Homo sapiens: one gene and its partners. The protein of the gene in region 3 purifies or fractionates together with the protein of the main gene of each other region. This does not show direct contact. Each region holds a gene or a part of one and is shown on either strand. Other genes may lie near its edges.

What was found. Proteins that work in one complex are often made in the same cells at the same time.
Region 1: the proteins of UGT1A10 (region 3) and KLK10 purify together in Homo sapiens (affinity purification with mass spectrometry; 3 studies listed by BioGRID and IntAct, with this or other methods). This does not show direct contact.
Region 2: the proteins of UGT1A10 (region 3) and A2ML1 purify together in Homo sapiens (affinity purification with mass spectrometry; 3 studies listed by BioGRID and IntAct, with this or other methods). This does not show direct contact.
Region 4: the proteins of UGT1A10 (region 3) and MANEA purify together in Homo sapiens (affinity purification with mass spectrometry; 2 studies listed by BioGRID and IntAct, with this or other methods). This does not show direct contact.

What each region holds. Positions count from the first base shown.
Region 1 is NC_000019.10:51,016,910-51,021,169, reverse strand, and holds the start of KLK10 (kallikrein-10 preproprotein), read left to right. Parts: upstream 1-1,460; 5' UTR 1,461-1,543; intron 1,544-1,798; exon of another isoform or gene 1,799-1,917; intron 1,918-2,027; exon of another isoform or gene 2,028-2,030; 5' UTR 2,031-2,039; coding exon 2,040-2,127; intron 2,128-3,879; coding exon 3,880-4,060; intron 4,061-4,260. UniProt on the Homo sapiens protein: Has a tumor-suppressor role for NES1 in breast and prostate cancer.
Region 2 is NC_000012.12:8,850,121-8,853,620, reverse strand, and holds part of A2ML1 (alpha-2-macroglobulin-like protein 1 isoform 1 precursor), read right to left. Parts: intron 3,462-3,500; coding exon 3,347-3,461; intron 1,838-3,346; coding exon 1,609-1,837; intron 1,412-1,608; coding exon 1,285-1,411; intron 1-1,284. UniProt on the Homo sapiens protein: Is able to inhibit all four classes of proteinases by a unique 'trapping' mechanism. This protein has a peptide stretch, called the 'bait region' which contains specific cleavage sites for different proteinases.
Region 3 is NC_000002.12:233,634,990-233,639,247, reverse strand, and holds the start of UGT1A10 (UDP-glucuronosyltransferase 1A10 precursor), read right to left. Parts: upstream 2,801-4,258; 5' UTR 2,726-2,800; coding exon 1,871-2,725; intron 1-1,870.
Region 4 is NC_000006.12:95,584,035-95,587,534, reverse strand, and holds part of MANEA (glycoprotein endo-alpha-1,2-mannosidase), read right to left. Parts: intron 1,134-3,500; 5' UTR 1,096-1,133; coding exon 552-1,095; intron 1-551.

The DNA of each region.
Region 1 (4,260 bases), on a different chromosome or scaffold from region 3:
ATTAAAATTACATAAAGCCAGAAATGTAACTCCTCTGTCTCACTTGTTATATCTCCAAGGCTGGATAGCCACATGTGACTGGTGGTGGCTGGATTAGCTAGTGCATATAAAACATCACTGCAGAAAGTTCAGCTGAGCAGCACTGAGTTAGATGGCCTCTGAAGAGGATGTCCCACGGAGAGAATCCAGAACTCAGGATCTTTTTTTTTTTTTTTCTTTGCGACAGAGTCTTGCTCTGTCACCCAGGCTGGAGTGCAGTGGCGTGATCTCGGCTCACTGCAACTTCTGCCTCCCAGGTTCAAGCAATTCTCCTGCCTCAGCCTCCCTAGTAGCTGGGACTACAGGCCTGTGCCAACATCCCCAGCTAATTTTTGTGTCTTTTTAGTAGAGATGGGGTTTCACTATGTTGGCCAGGCTGGTCTCGAACTCCTGACCTCGTGATCCGCCCCCCCTTGGCCTCCCAAAGTGCTGGGATTACAGGCGTGAGCCACCGCGCCCGGCCAGCTCAGGATCTTTTGGGATGGTCTGTTCACCTCGCAGAAGTGGCTGGCATGAGCAATAGGAGCCCAGAGTGGAACCAGGGCCTTCTGGTTGTCAAGTGGACTTGCTGTGTGACCTCCTGTGAGTCTCTGCCCTCTCTGAGCCTCTCACTCCTCACCTGAGATGAGGGAGTTGGCTGAGGTGATGCCGATGCCCCTCACAGCTTTGACCTCCTATGATTCAGGGGCCTGTGTGTCACCTGGTGGCACACAGATGGCAGGGAGGGTGTGAGATGGCCACACATGGGTATGAGGCAGAGCCACAGCCCCCCCCAACACGCACATGGGCTAGTCACTGGGACACACACAGAGCTCACTCACGGCCACAGAGTGGGCGTGGGTTTCCCTTTTTCCTTGTTTCTGTTTCTCTTAGCCTCGGCGCCTCCCTCCCTCCCTCTCTCTCTCTCTCTCTCTCTCTCTCTCTCTCTCTCTGGCTCTTTTAGCCTTGGTTTGTTACAATCTCCCTTTTCAAGCCAGCCTCTGTCCCTCCTACTCAACCTGCTTTATCTCTAGGCCTTCCTCCTTCCTCTTCCACAGTCTGGCTTCTCACATTGTCACTCTAGGTATGCACTTCCCATTGATTTCCTCTTGCTCAGTGGCCTCTCATCCTGCCACCCCTAGCCTTGCTGGGGACGTGAACCCTCTCCCCGCGCCTGGGAAGCCTTCTTGGCACCGGGACCCGGAGAATCCCCACGGAAGCCAGTTCCAAAAGGGATGAAAAGGGGGCGTTTCGGGCACTGGGAGAAGCCTGTATTCCAGGGCCCCTCCCAGAGCAGGAATCTGGGACCCAGGAGTGCCAGCCTCACCCACGGTACAATTAGACAGAGGGAAAGGGAGGGAGCCCGGGGGTGGGGGTAGGGGAGGGTGGAGAAGCTTCCGGACTCCTTGGGGTTAAAAGGGAAGGTCCCGCCAGGGGTCCCTGGGCAGAGGATACCAGCGGCAGACCACAGGCAGGGCAGAGGCACGTCTGGGTCCCCTCCCTCCTTCCTATCGGCGACTCCCAGGTGAAGCTACCTGCACCCCACCCGGGTTGGGGTGGATTGCGAGAGGATGGGTGGGGACCCCCGGGCCACAGGCAGGAGCCGGCTTAGAGCCTCGGTTTCTCCACCTGCGGGACGCGGAAGTCCCCCCGCTGTGAGGTTGAGAAAGAGGCTCCCACTGGCTCCGAGCCTCGGATCCCCACCCCGCGCGTGAAGGAGGGGGAAACCTCGGGCGCGGCGTGGCTGCAGCCAGGGTAGCTGGGGCGCGGAGAGCGCTCCACTCGGGCACAGGGAGGACGGGAAGATGCCGCGAGGGGCGTCATTAGGGTAATTGTGCCCATTACCGCTGTTCCAGCCCGAATCTCCCGTCTGCCAGCCCCTGGGGTTATCGGCTGCAGGTCAAAAGGGTGCTTGCGGGCTGGGGTGGCCCAGGCTGGGCGGATGAGCGCGGCGAGGTGGGGGTCTCTAACGGAGCATCTGTTTTAACCCGCCCCTGCACACACCCCAGCAGATCCTGGCCATGAGAGCTCCGCACCTCCACCTCTCCGCCGCCTCTGGCGCCCGGGCTCTGGCGAAGCTGCTGCCGCTGCTGATGGCGCAACTCTGGGGTAAGGTCGGGGGCAGGGGGCGGGGAGAGGCGCCGGTGGGAGGCACGGGCGGGAGGAGAATGTGTTCCCGTCACCAAGCCCCGCGCACCTCTCCTCCCCCGAGACCCCAGCACCCACCCAGCGCTCCGGAGCACGGCCCGCCCCCAAGTCAGCTGGGCCCTTCTTCTGGCTCGGCCCCTGGGTGACCCGCCCCACTCAGGCCCTGTCCGATTTCTGCCACCCGGATCCTCGCTCTTCCGTGGACTCTTCGCCGCGTTCTTTCTCCTCCTCTTACGCCGCCCCATCCCGGCCCCGCTCCATTTTACACTACCGTGTTTTGTTTTGTTTGTTTGTTTGTTTGAGACGGAGTCTCGCTCTGTCGCCCAGGCTGGAGTGCAGTGACGCGATCTCGGCTCACTGCAAGCTCCGCCTCCCGGGTTCACACCATTCTCCTGCCTCAGCCTCCCGAGTAGCTGGGACTACAGGCGCCCGCCACCAAGCCCGGCTAGTTTTTTGTATTTTTAGTAGAGATGGGATTTCACCGTGGTCTCGATCTCCTGGCCTCGTGATCCGCCTGCCTCGGCCTCCCAAAGTGCTGGGATTACAAGCGTGAGCCACCGCTCCCGGCCACACCACCGTGTTTTATCCTGAGTCTTGCCTTACCGCTTTTTGCCCTCTCCCCTCACTTTTTTTCTTCCTCTTTCCCTTTCTCTCTCTTTTTTCTTTTTCTTTCTTTCTTTTCTTTCTTTCGTTCTTCTTTTCCTTCCTTCCTTTCCTTCCTTCCTTTCGTTTGTTTCTTCTTTCTTGTTTTACTTTCTCTCTTATTTTTTCTTCTTTCTTTCTTGTTTTTTTCTTTCTCTCTCTTTTTCTTTCCTTCTTTTTTTTTTTTTTTTTTTTTTGAGACAGGGCAGTGCTCTGTCTCCGTGGCTGGAGTACAGTGGCCCAATCAGAGCTCACTGCAGCCTCGACCTCCTGGGCTCAAGCGATACTCAGCCTCCAGAGTAGCTGGTACCACAGGCATGCACCACCACATCCGGCTTTTTTTTTTTTTTTTTTTTTTTTTGAGACAGGGTCTCACTCTGTCGCCCAGACTGGAGTGCAGTGGCCCAATCTCGGCTCATTGCAACCTCCACCTCCTGGGCTCAAGCGATCCTCCCACCTCAGCCTCCCAGGTAGCTGTGACTACAGGCGCATGCCTCCGCGACTACTTTTTTGTTGTTGTTGTTGTTGTTTGTTTGTTTTTGTAGAGACTGGGTCTTGCTGTGTTGCCCGGGCTGGTCTTGAATTCCCGAGCTCAAGCGGTCCAACCGCCTCGGCTTCCCAAAGTGCTGGGATTACAGGCGTAAACCACTGCGCCCCACCCCTCTCCTGGTTTTCAATCCCGTTTTGTTATTCACACCCCTTCCTCTCCCCGATCCCCGAGTTCTATCCCCGCACCCTTACCTCCCCGCCGCGTTCAATCCCCGCCCCTCTATCGACCAGCGACGTTCTAGCCAGCTCTCCAGGCGCGCTGCGTTCAGTCCCTGCCCTCCAGACCCACCCTATTCTGTCTCATTACTCCACGCTACCCTATCCCAGCTTCCTTCCACTTTCACGCGCTTCTTCTCCTCCCATTCCCTTCGGTGCACGCGAAACCCCCAATATTTCCCTACCACCCTCGCGTTCTGGCTGCGTCCCCCGTCCCCGAACGCAGTCCAGTGCCACAGCCCAGCTCCAACCCCAAACCCAGACCCTGCCCTCCGTGCTTTGATTCCGTCCCCTTTCTTTCTCCAGCCGCAGAGGCGGCGCTGCTCCCCCAAAACGACACGCGCTTGGACCCCGAAGCCTATGGCTCCCCGTGCGCGCGCGGCTCGCAGCCCTGGCAGGTCTCGCTCTTCAACGGCCTCTCGTTCCACTGCGCGGGTGTCCTGGTGGACCAGAGTTGGGTGCTGACGGCCGCGCACTGCGGAAACAAGTAGGAGGAGATCCATCCCCGAGGACGCCACGGGGGGCTGTGGAGGCGGCCTCCAGGGAGGAGCGGGCAGGGCGGGGTCTCTCGGAACTCCCACAGCTGGAGGTGCGGTCCCCGGTGTCCTTCCAGCAGGAGGAGAGACCGGGCTTGCGCTGTGGCCGCCAGGGGGCGGTGTGGTCCTTTTCCGCATTTCTGGGCCCGTC
Region 2 (3,500 bases), on a different chromosome or scaffold from region 3:
AGCCTGTAAGGATCAGAGACTTTGGGATGAGCTTGAAAAATCAATCCTCTCCTAGTCGAGTCTTCAGATGAAACCAGAGTCCTGACTGACAGCTTGATTGCAACCTCATGAGATACCTTGAGCCAGAGGTACCCAGCTAAGCTGCACCCAGATTAATGACCCATAGAATCTGTTTGATAATGTTTGTCCTTTTATGACACTTAAGTTTTACAATAATTTGTCAAGCAACATGAGATAACTCATACATATGAAAATCAAACTTTGAGTTGCAAGGATTTAATCTATGAGTGACTGACATCCCATAGGGTTGGGGGTGAGGATTAAACAAGTTAAAGGTGCAGTGACTCATTCTTGTAATCCCAGTACTTTGGAAGGGTGAGGCGGGAGAATCACTTGAACCCAGGAGTTTGAGAACAGCCTGGGCAACAGAGCAAGACCGCTTCTCTGCCAACTGAATTAGCCAGGCATGGTGGTGGCATGAGCCTATAGTCCCAGCTACTCCGGAGGCCTAGGTGAGAGGATCGCTTGAGCCTGGGAGGTTGAGGCTGCAGTGAGCAATGACCACACCACTGTACTCCAGCTTAGGTGACAGAGTAAGATCTTGTCTCTCTAAAAAAAAATAAAAGGCCAGGCGCAGCGGCTCACGCCTGTAATCCCAGCACTTTGGGAGGCCGAGGCAGGCAGGTCACCTGAGGTCAGGAGTTTGAGACCAGCCTGGCCAACATGGCAAAACCCCACCTCTACTAAAAGTACAAAAATTAGCCGGGTAGGGTGGCACGCGACTGTAATCCTAGCTACTTGGGAGGCTTGGCAGGAGAATCACTTGAACCCAGGAGGTGGAGGTTGCAGTAAGCACAGATTGCACCACTGCACTCCAGCCTGCGCAACAGAGCGAGACTTCCTCTCAAAAATAAATAAATAAAATAAAAATTAATTAGTCAATCAATTTAATGAGTTAATATATGTAAAGCAGTTAGAATAGTGCCTGGCCCAGGGACTCTTATAGTAAGTCCTTGATTAGTTACATGACCATGTATTCCTTGTCCAGCTATAAATATTAAAAGCTCTCCCTTTCACACTCAAAATATTCCGGTTTGAACAAATTTGTTTGGTCACCTATCAAAGAGTGTTTGTGTATTGACTTATAACAGCCTTAGGAGGGAGAAAAATAGTGGAAAATGGAGGAGGAAGCAAAGCAGATGTGGCAGAGGAAAAGACTGAGTGCTCAGTCACTGGTCTTCTGCTGCTGGCTTTCCTCGCCCGTCTACCACTTCCCTCTCTTACCCAATTTGACAGCTGTGATGTTCCAGTGGTGGGTTTTTGCGTCATCAGCACAGAGACAACTGGAGGTCTGAGAATCTGCCCATGATTCTAGCTGGTACTCATGCGATTTAGCCAGGTCAGTCTGAACCTACGGAGGATGTTTAAGAGACAAAGGGTACAAACAAAGGAGGTAGTGCATAGAGGCCTGGGGAAACCTGGGGGCTGAGACGCCGACATCTCCTCTCTTTCCCAGGGAAAATTGGGATGCTTCCAATTTAGAGACAAACTTATGGGGGAGGTGTGATTCCAGGGCTGACACCTGATTCCTGTATCCCCAGCTCTCACCCTGATGCAATCCTTTAGGTAATTGAAGATGGTGGCAGTAAGACGAAAGGATTCCCCACGGACTACTGAGTAAGGGAGAGTCAGGTCAACAAAGAACGGCTTGAAAGCAGTTAGTCCAACAGTGGGTGAAAGCCCGAAGCCTCTTGACTGGGAAGTGCAGAAACTCATCGCCTTCCACTCGGTGATGGCGTCAGGAACTGTGACGTGGACCGCCTCCTTCCCCGAGTTACTGTGAAAACACAAGGACCAACATGAGGCAGAGGTAGCGTGGGGCAAGGAGAACATTTGTGAATTAAGCCACAAATTCGGTGGGGTGTGCTGGCTTACACTTGTAATCCCAGCTCTTTGAGAGGCTGAGGTGAGCAGATAGCTTCAGCCCAGCAGTTTGAGGCCAGCCTGGGAAACATAGCAAGACCCTATTTCTACCAAAAATTTAAAAATTAGCCAGGTGTGGTGGTGCATGCCTATAGTCCCAGCTACTTAGGAGGCTGAGGCAGGAGGATTGCTTGAGCCCAGGAGTTTGAGGCTGCAGTGAGCTATGATTGCACCACTGCACTCCAGCCTGGGTGACAGGGCAAGACCCTGTCCAAAAAAAAAAAGCTACAAATTCATCTGCAGAAGTAAAATTGTTATTGTTATTGTATGGGGAGAAGTAAAGAGGCAACTGAACAGGTGAGTCTCAGTGTGAGTGAGGCTGCACTCATACGGAGGAGGGGGACTATGGTGGGGAGTCGGGGTGGGCATCTCTGTGCAAGCACATCTGACAGAGAGGCTGGTGCCCTCTGAGTCTGAGGATGTGTGGTCTCAGGGCTTGTCAAAATGGATATGCAAGCAGTGAGCAAAAATTGATGTCAATATATACCTTTAAATGTGTGTGGTTCTGTAGTGAGAACACAGGGCCTGCAATGTGTGAGTGTGGAATTGTGTGGATTTGTTTTGAGTGGTTGTATATGAATGCATGAAGAATTCAGGTAGGCCGGGCGCAGTGGCTCACACCTGTAATCCCAACACTTTGGGAGGCCAAGGCGGGTGGATCACTTGAGGCCAGGAGTTCAAGACTAGCCTGGCCAACATAGCAAAACCCTGCCTCTACTAAAAATACAAAACTTAGCCAGGTGTGGTGGCATGTGCCTATAGTCCCAGCTACTTGGGAGGCTGAGGCACAAGAATTGCTTGAACCTAGGAGGTTGAGGCCTACAGTGAGCCAAAATCATGCCACTGCACTCCAGCCTGGGTGACAGAGCAAGACTCTGTCTTAAAAATAAAAAGAAAAAAAGAATTCCGGAAAATAAATAAATTCCCACACCCCATCAAGCTTTCTTTGCTTAAGATTTAGATCCATTAGGAATGCGTCTGATTCTGAGTTTTCTACAGGCTCTACATTGCAGAATCTTACTGTTTTTTTTCTGGGTTTGTTGTTGTCGTTGTCGTTGTTGATTTTGAGAAGGGTTTTGCTCTGTCACCCAAGCAGGAGTGAAGCAATGTGATCTTGCTTCACTGCAGCCTCCACCTCCCAGACTCAAGTGATCCTTCCACCTCAGCCTTCCAAGTAGGACACAACTACCATCTGGCTATTTTTTTAATTTCTTTTGTAGAGACAGAAGCTCATTATGTTGCCCAGGCTGGTCTTGAACTCCTGGTCTCAAGTGATCCTCCCTCCTAAGCCTCCCAAAGTGTTGGGATTACAGGCGTGAGCCATGCACCTGGCCCTTTACTGTACTTTTGAGTCATCACTTACCCAATAGGAAACAGATCCCAGAGCCAGGTCTCTGGGAAGTACTGGCGGACCTGAGAATCCTCTGCTTGATGTAAAGGAGTTGATGACTCAAAAGCCTCTGGATGACCACCGCCTGCTGATGAAATTGAGAATACGAAAACTTTAGGAAACAGGA
Region 3 (4,258 bases):
ATTCTTTAATAGATATAGAAACACATTTATTTCATATCTCATAAAAGATATTTACAATCAAAATAAATGAAACCATATATAGTTTAATGTTTCATTTTTTATAGATATCCCTCTATCACAGGTGATATAAAATCATATATAGGTTTTTATATCTTTAAAGGCCTCTAGGTGACCCTGTGAGCCACAATAAACTCAGCGTGGGTTCAGGAAGTGGCAGATCCTCAACTCGGCCGAAGGCTGTGGGGTGTAGGCAACACATGGGTGGTGCTTGGTACTGTAATTAATGGAGGATAACGAGGAGAAAAGTGCTTTGATAAGTCCAACCTCTTAGAGTCCTGCAACTTGCATCTCCTCGCCTGGTCTTGCCATGAGCTGAAAGTCATGCCTAATTTTGAAAGGCCTACAACTGTAGTCTTCCTGCTTTTTAGAAAGAGCATTATTTCACTTTCCTATGAGATGGCTGAACGGTCACTCTTTCACCAACCATCTGCCAATGACAGATATAACTGTGTTACAAAGTCTACTGAATCTTGTAAGAAACCAGAACAATACATAAAAATGTGTACTCCACCCCTAATAAAATAATATAATGAGATGAGACACCAGGTGTTTCATCTGGATTTAGCAACTATGCGTTTGCCAAGAATCTTATTCTGGTATTTTTCAAGGATTTTTCAGTCACAAGCAACCGAATCCCTATTTAAACTGGCTACTCTAACAATATTACTCAATAATATTTTGGAAGTATATGCTCCAGCAAAGCAAAAGAAGCAGTACAAATATCAGACAAGGGAATTACTTGCAGATGGTATTGTATATTGTACATCTAATGCATACTACAAAATAATAAGAAAAGTTAGTGATGTGGCTGGATACAAGATACATATGCAAAAACCAAAATTTTAATTACCAGTAATCAGTTAAATGTAGAAATGGAAACATTGCCCTGTACAAAATAGTTTCTAAAGTAATAAAATGCCAAGGAATAAATGTTAAAAACAAACATAAAATGCTTATATAGTGAAAATTTTTATTTATGTATATAAAACAAGATCTGAATAAATAGTGAGACATATATGTTCCTGAACAGGAAGACTTAATAGCAAAAAGATGCCAGTCTTCTCAATTCAGGAAAACCCTGTAACCCTACGTGTAGGACTCTAGTCTACTAAGATAAAAGCAAGAATATAGAAATATATTCACGCAAGGAAAGTATTGAAGAGTGTTTACACAGCCTTATTCACAAAAGGAAAGAGTGGAAAATGGCTATATATATATCAATATTAATTGGTTAAAAAACTACATTGTATCCAAAGTAAAGAATTTTATGCAATTATTAAAAGAACTTGTCAAATCTGTCTGTATTGCTCTATAAAGGTACCCATAATTTATTGGCAAGTGAAAAATGCAAGATAAAGAAGAATATGTTCAGCCCAATACTAGATTTTATTTTTACTAAATAGGTATGGGAACTTACATGAGATATTGCATATGCCTAAAATACTTTTTTTCAATGAAAAGAATGTACACAAAACTTAAGAGCATTTCAACTACGGGGTCACATAGAATTAACAAAAAACGGAAGTTTCATTTCTTGCTGTGGTTTTTGGTACTTTTCTAAACATCGTATTTTAAAATGTAGCCTGAATATGATCTATAATTTTTAAATTATTACATATACTTTCAAGAAGGGCAGTTTTATAAAATTTGATAATTGATGAGTACATGAATTCGCACAAAATAATTTGTTAAACTGGAAAGAAATTTGAAATGCAACAAACGAAAATGTCAAATCACAGTTCAGTAAGGAATCCTTTTTTAATTTCCAAAGCCAGATTATTCTTAATGTGCTAAAGGAGAGGTGACTTACCATAGGCAATGGCTTTCCCTGATGACAGTTGATACCACCAATGAAGATCATGTTGGGCATCACGGGTTTGGGATAGTCCAAAACAAAGTCCGTTCGCAACAACCAAATTGATGTGTGACTGTAGAGATCATATGCCGTGACAGGGGTTTGGAGAATTTCAGAGGCTATTTCTAGGGCATTTCTAAAAAGATACTGGCAAAATAAATGGTCCTCCAAGTGCACGATGTGGTTCCATACTCTCTCCTTGAAAGTCATGGCATCTGAGAACCCTAAGAGATCATTGGGGACATAGGAAAGAGGAGCAGGGCACTGTGCACCTTCTTCAAGATGGTGGCAAAATATTCCCCTGGTGAAGACCACAGAGGGGAGGGAGAAATATTTAGCAACAATTAAGCCACAGGTATCAAAAGGATCCAGAAACACTGCATCAAAAGAACTCTCCTTTAAGTATTCTACTAATTTTCGGTCATTAAACAAACTCCTGCAATGCGAAAAAAATAAGTCAAGAAAACCACTGGATGAACTCATTAATAGAGAAAATATACTTTGTGCCTGTGCTTTCCATTGAGCATGGGCGAAAACCATGAATTCCCGGTTCTGATCTTCCAGAGTGTACGAGGTTGAGTAAGTCTTCACTGTGCAATTCAGTGATCTTTCCAGTTGCCAACTCACCTCTGGCATGACTACAACCACCTCATGCCCCCTGAGGATAAGTTTCTCCACCACCGACTGCATGGTGAACCAGTGACTCCCATCCATGGGCACTACCAGCAGCTTCCCTGCCTCGGCAAAGCCACAGGTCAGCAGTAGACACACACATAAAGGAACGGGGCTGGTCCACCCTGCGCGAGCCATGAGAGAACTGCAGCCCGAGCCAGCAGCTGGGATTCTAAGCTGCTATGATACAGTAGGCGGAAGAAGTACAGGCACAAAACCTGACCCCAATAGAGGGCGTGTATTTATCCTTTCATAAAAAAAAAAAAATCACACTCACTGCCAATGATTTACTCATAAGAACGATAACACACGAGTATCATTTGCTGAGATACCTACTTGTATGATTTCCAGACAAGAGTAGATTATGGTCTTCGCCTTGGAGGGAGAGCACGCTGCAAGTGAGTTTAGAAACAGAATTATTCAGCAATGCTTTTGGACCTTGAAGATTCGGAAAGATAAAGTGAAAGTAAATTTGAATAATGCTAATATTTTTGGAATTTATCCCAAAGCAAAATTTAGATTTTGACTTTAGCCAACCAAATACTCTCTGTCCAGAAAGAAATTGGCATCTCATGTTCCAGGGAAAGACAGCAAGGCTCTTAGCACTGACCTCCCAACTGGCAAGAAACTGGGGCTCACCTGCATCTCTGCAATGCATAATCATTGCTGGTTGTCTTCTTCCATATCCAAACCCTGAGAGGCCTCTGAAATGCCAAAATGAGATTGACAACCCTGCCTCCATGGACCATACCAGGGACTTGATGGAAAGTGACCATCACCTATTTTAATGACTTTCCTCAGATACGTTGCATGCAGTGGGGAGTTGCTGGCCCAGTCCTTGTGCGAACACTCTGCTGGGCTGCCTCTCTGTGACTGCTCTACTTCTATATTCTAAACACACCATCACTCCAGTGACCTCTTTCAGGAAAATATGTACTTGTCTCCCTCAGTCTGCTGAGGACTCCTGGAAGTCAGAGGTGATGCCATCTCTGTGTTTTTACCCTTCTTTCACAGTAGCCATGCTTTGCCTTTGACGTAGTTTGTATGTTTGTCCCCTCCATATATCATGGTCAAATATAATCCCCAGTGTTGGAGATGAAGCATGGTGGGAGGTGTTTGGGTCATGGGCATGGATCCCTCATGAATGGCTTGGCACTGCCCTCCCAATTGTGAGTGATTTCTCATGAGATTTGATTGTTTAAAAGTATACGACAGTACATGTATCCCAGATCTCTTAAAGTATAATTTTTTAAAAAATGCCAAAAACCCTCTTCAGGATATTATTCAGGAGAACTTCCCCAGCCTAGCAAGACAGGCCAACATTCAAATTCAGGAAACACAGAGAACACCATAAAGATACTCCTCGAGAAAAGCAACTCCAAGACACATAATCATCAGATTCACCAACGTTGAAATGAAGGAAAAATGTTAAGGGCAGCCAGAGAGAAAGGTCCTGTTACACACGAAAAGAAGTTCATCAGACTAACAGCAGACCTCTCTTTAGAGACCCAACAAACCAGAAGACAGTGGGGACCAAAACTCAACATTCCTAAAGGAAAGAATTTTCAATCCAGAATTTCATATCCAGCCAAACTAAGCTTCATAAGTGAAAGAGAAATAAAATCCTTTACAGACAAGCAAATGCTGAGAGATTTTGTCACCACCAGGCCT
Region 4 (3,500 bases), on a different chromosome or scaffold from region 3:
TGAATGACTCTATTTTCATAAAGTAATAGAACACTCACAACTATTCTCCAGTGATAGAAATCAGATCTGATAGAAATCAGATCCAGCTGATATGTATACAGTTTTCAGCGGTAGGGGAGAAGGTAGGCCTGAATAAAGGAATTATGATGAGACTTTTTGGGCTATAGAAATATTTTACTTCTTGATTGGGGTGGTATTCAAACAGGTATATACTTTTGAGTAACATCAATGAGCTATAAACTTAAAGTGGGAAATTCATTGTATTTTATGTAAATCATAATTTAATAAAATTGAGAAAGTGAATTAAATTAGAAATCAACAATATATCCAGAAATGCTCCAAAATGTAAAAATTAAACAATATACACTAAGGGCAGTGTTAAAATGTGGTTGCCTGGATGTTTAAGATCATACATACAGTTTAATTTGGAGGTATGAGCTTAACAATATAATTAATAATAATGAGAAAATTAACTAGTAAAGTTACACAAAAAATCATTTATATGCATATATACAGACACAAACACACATATATATATATACAATAATTACCAATTGAAGCTGAGCGCATTTGTCTCATGTGAGTTTCTATGACAGAAGGATCCCGAGAACTGTAACTTCCCAATTCAGGATAAAAGCTGGAGCCAATGTCATCTGGAGGGTTGTGTCTCCCTTGTGGATAATTCTTGGCTATTCTAGGGTCCCAATGCTCTAACACTGGATGATTCCAATGTATATATTTACCATCAAATTGTGGATTTCCATACCAACTGTAATAAAATACATGTAGATAATTGTTCAGAGGTGGTAGTTCATCCAAGTTAAGTTCAGAGGCTTTGGAAGGTTTCATAGTGATTTCAACACTTTTTAAATTCTTGGTATTTGTTTCACTGTTGATTCTGTCACTCTTTTGGAAATCAAAATTTTTCCCCAAATGAATAGTTCGTTGATGAAGTTCTGGAAGAAGGTCAAGTCCAAAAGGAGCTCCAAAAGTAGCTGTATTTGGTCTCAGCATTTTTAAACCCATCATCAGAGAGAAAATAAATAGAATAAAAAGTGCCAAAATGATGCAAGTCCTTCTCCGAAACTTTGCCATGATGACATACTTTAAACTCCAAAATAGTAAGTGTTTTGCTGCAATTTATTGAAAAAAGATAATTAGTAAGTGTTATCAACAGTATTTTCCAATATATTCAACACGAAAACTAAAATCCATAAATTTCATTACATTGAATAATTAATACTGATTTCATCACATATTGGTGAAATTAAGAAAGTGAAGACATTAATTATATCATCATATATAAATGTGTACAATAAGGGTCTATGGCTAGAATAAACGGCAATATTCATTTGGATATATCACCATGTACATGCCAATTACGTTTAGTCAGACGAACCTTTAGGAAATTTTATTTAAGAAATTAAAATATGTTTTTCATTACTTGAACAGATTACATGTATGCTGAATGTAGGAAGGGAACATTCTATGTATGTGAACTAAAATTCTGTTTAAAAATCATTTATTTATTTATTGTAGAGACAAGGTCTCACTATGTTGACCAGGCTGGTCTTGAACTCTTGGGCTCAAGCGATCCTCCTGTCTCAGCCTCCCACATTGCTAGGATTACAGGTATGAGTCACCACACACCTGGCCTGAACTAAAATTTTCTAAATCTAAGTGTAAAATTTACAAATCACAGTTAATAAAAAGGAAATACTTACTAGTGTATGAAAAACCCAGTCATTAAACAGATTTTCTAAAAAATTTTTAACTAACAATTTCATAAAAGGGAAAAATTACAAATTTTAAATAACATTTTGAAGTGAAATAGAATCAGACAAAATTTTTTAAATGACAGTAGAGAAAAAAAGAATAATCACAAGTAAGATATTCCCAATTTTTTCAAAAAATTCATTAGGCTGGGCATGATGGCTCATGCCTGTAATCCCAGCACTTTGGAAGGCTGAGGCAGGAAGATCACTTGAGTTCAGCAGTTTGAGACCAGCCTGGACAACCACGGGGAGACCCCATCCCTACACAAACTTTTAAAAAATTGGCTAGGCATGGTGGTGTGTGCCTGTAGTTCCCCAGCTACTCATGAGGCTGAGGCAGGTGGATTGCTTGAGCCCAGAAGGTCAAGGCTGCAGTGAGCCATGATTGTGCCACTGCACTCCAGCCTGGGTGACAGTGCAAGAAAACGTCTCCAAAAATAAAATTAACTTACGACTCTGAAAATCTTACTGAACAGAGGTTATAAACAGTAATTTATAACTTCTGAAAGGGTATTATATGTGTTTTTGTTTTAGTAAGTATGTTTATGGACATATATTAATGCAGTGCTTCTTGGCTGATTAAGAAAAGACATTATTGTTGTGTGTGTATATATATATATATATGAGTATAAGTATATAGGTACATATACACCATATGAATGAAATATTCAAGTCTTTTTATATACAGATTTCTTATTAGAAAGGTATTTGGCACAATGCTGACATTGACTGCTTTATAAAATGAGTTCTATGATACGGTGCTGTTATTATAGAGAATTAAGTTAAAAAAGACTTAACTCCAATAGAAAAGAAAGACAAGTGAAACTTCCTACAAACTGCTGCTTCTATTCTATCGGGGGAACCCATCCCCAATATTTCAACGTAGGTTCTTTCTATTTTCCATAAATGTCAACCAGTCTGAGAAATAAGAGAGAGAGTACAAAGAGAGGAATTTTACAGTTGGGCCACCGGGGGTGACATCACATATCGGTAGGACCATGATGCCCACCTGAGCCACAAAACCAGCAAATTTTATTAAGAATTTCAAAAGGGGAGGGGGTCCAAGAACAGGGAGTAACTCACAAGATCACATACTTCAAAGGGCAAAAAGGAGAACAAAGATCACATGCTTCTGGGGAAACAGGAGAAAAGGCAAAACAGAACTACTGGTAAGGGTCTATGTTCAGCTGTGCACCTACTGTCTTGATAAACATCTTAAACAACAGAAAACAGGGTTCGAGAGCAGAGAACCAGTCTGACCTCAAATTCACCAGGGTGGGGTACTGGAGGAGACCAGGGCGTATCTCAGTCCTTATCTCAACCGCATAGGACAGACACTCCCAGAGCGGCCGCTTATAGACCTCCCCCGAGGAATGCAATTCTTTTCCTAGGGTCTTAATATTAATGTTCCTTGCTAGGAAAAGAATTTAGTGATACCTCTCCTACTTGCACGTCCATTTATAGGCTCTCTGCAAGAAGAAAAATATGGCTCTTTTTGCCCGACCCCACAGGCAGTCAGACTTTATCGCTGTCTTAAAAATCGCTGTTACTCTGTTCTTTTTCAAGGTGCACTGATTTCATATTGTTCAAACACACGTTTTACAATCAATTTGTACAGTTAACACAATTATAGTGGTCCTGAGGTGACGTACATCCTCAGTTTACGAAGATAAGAGGATTAAGAGATTAAAGTAAGACAGGCATAAGAAATTATAAGAGTATTCT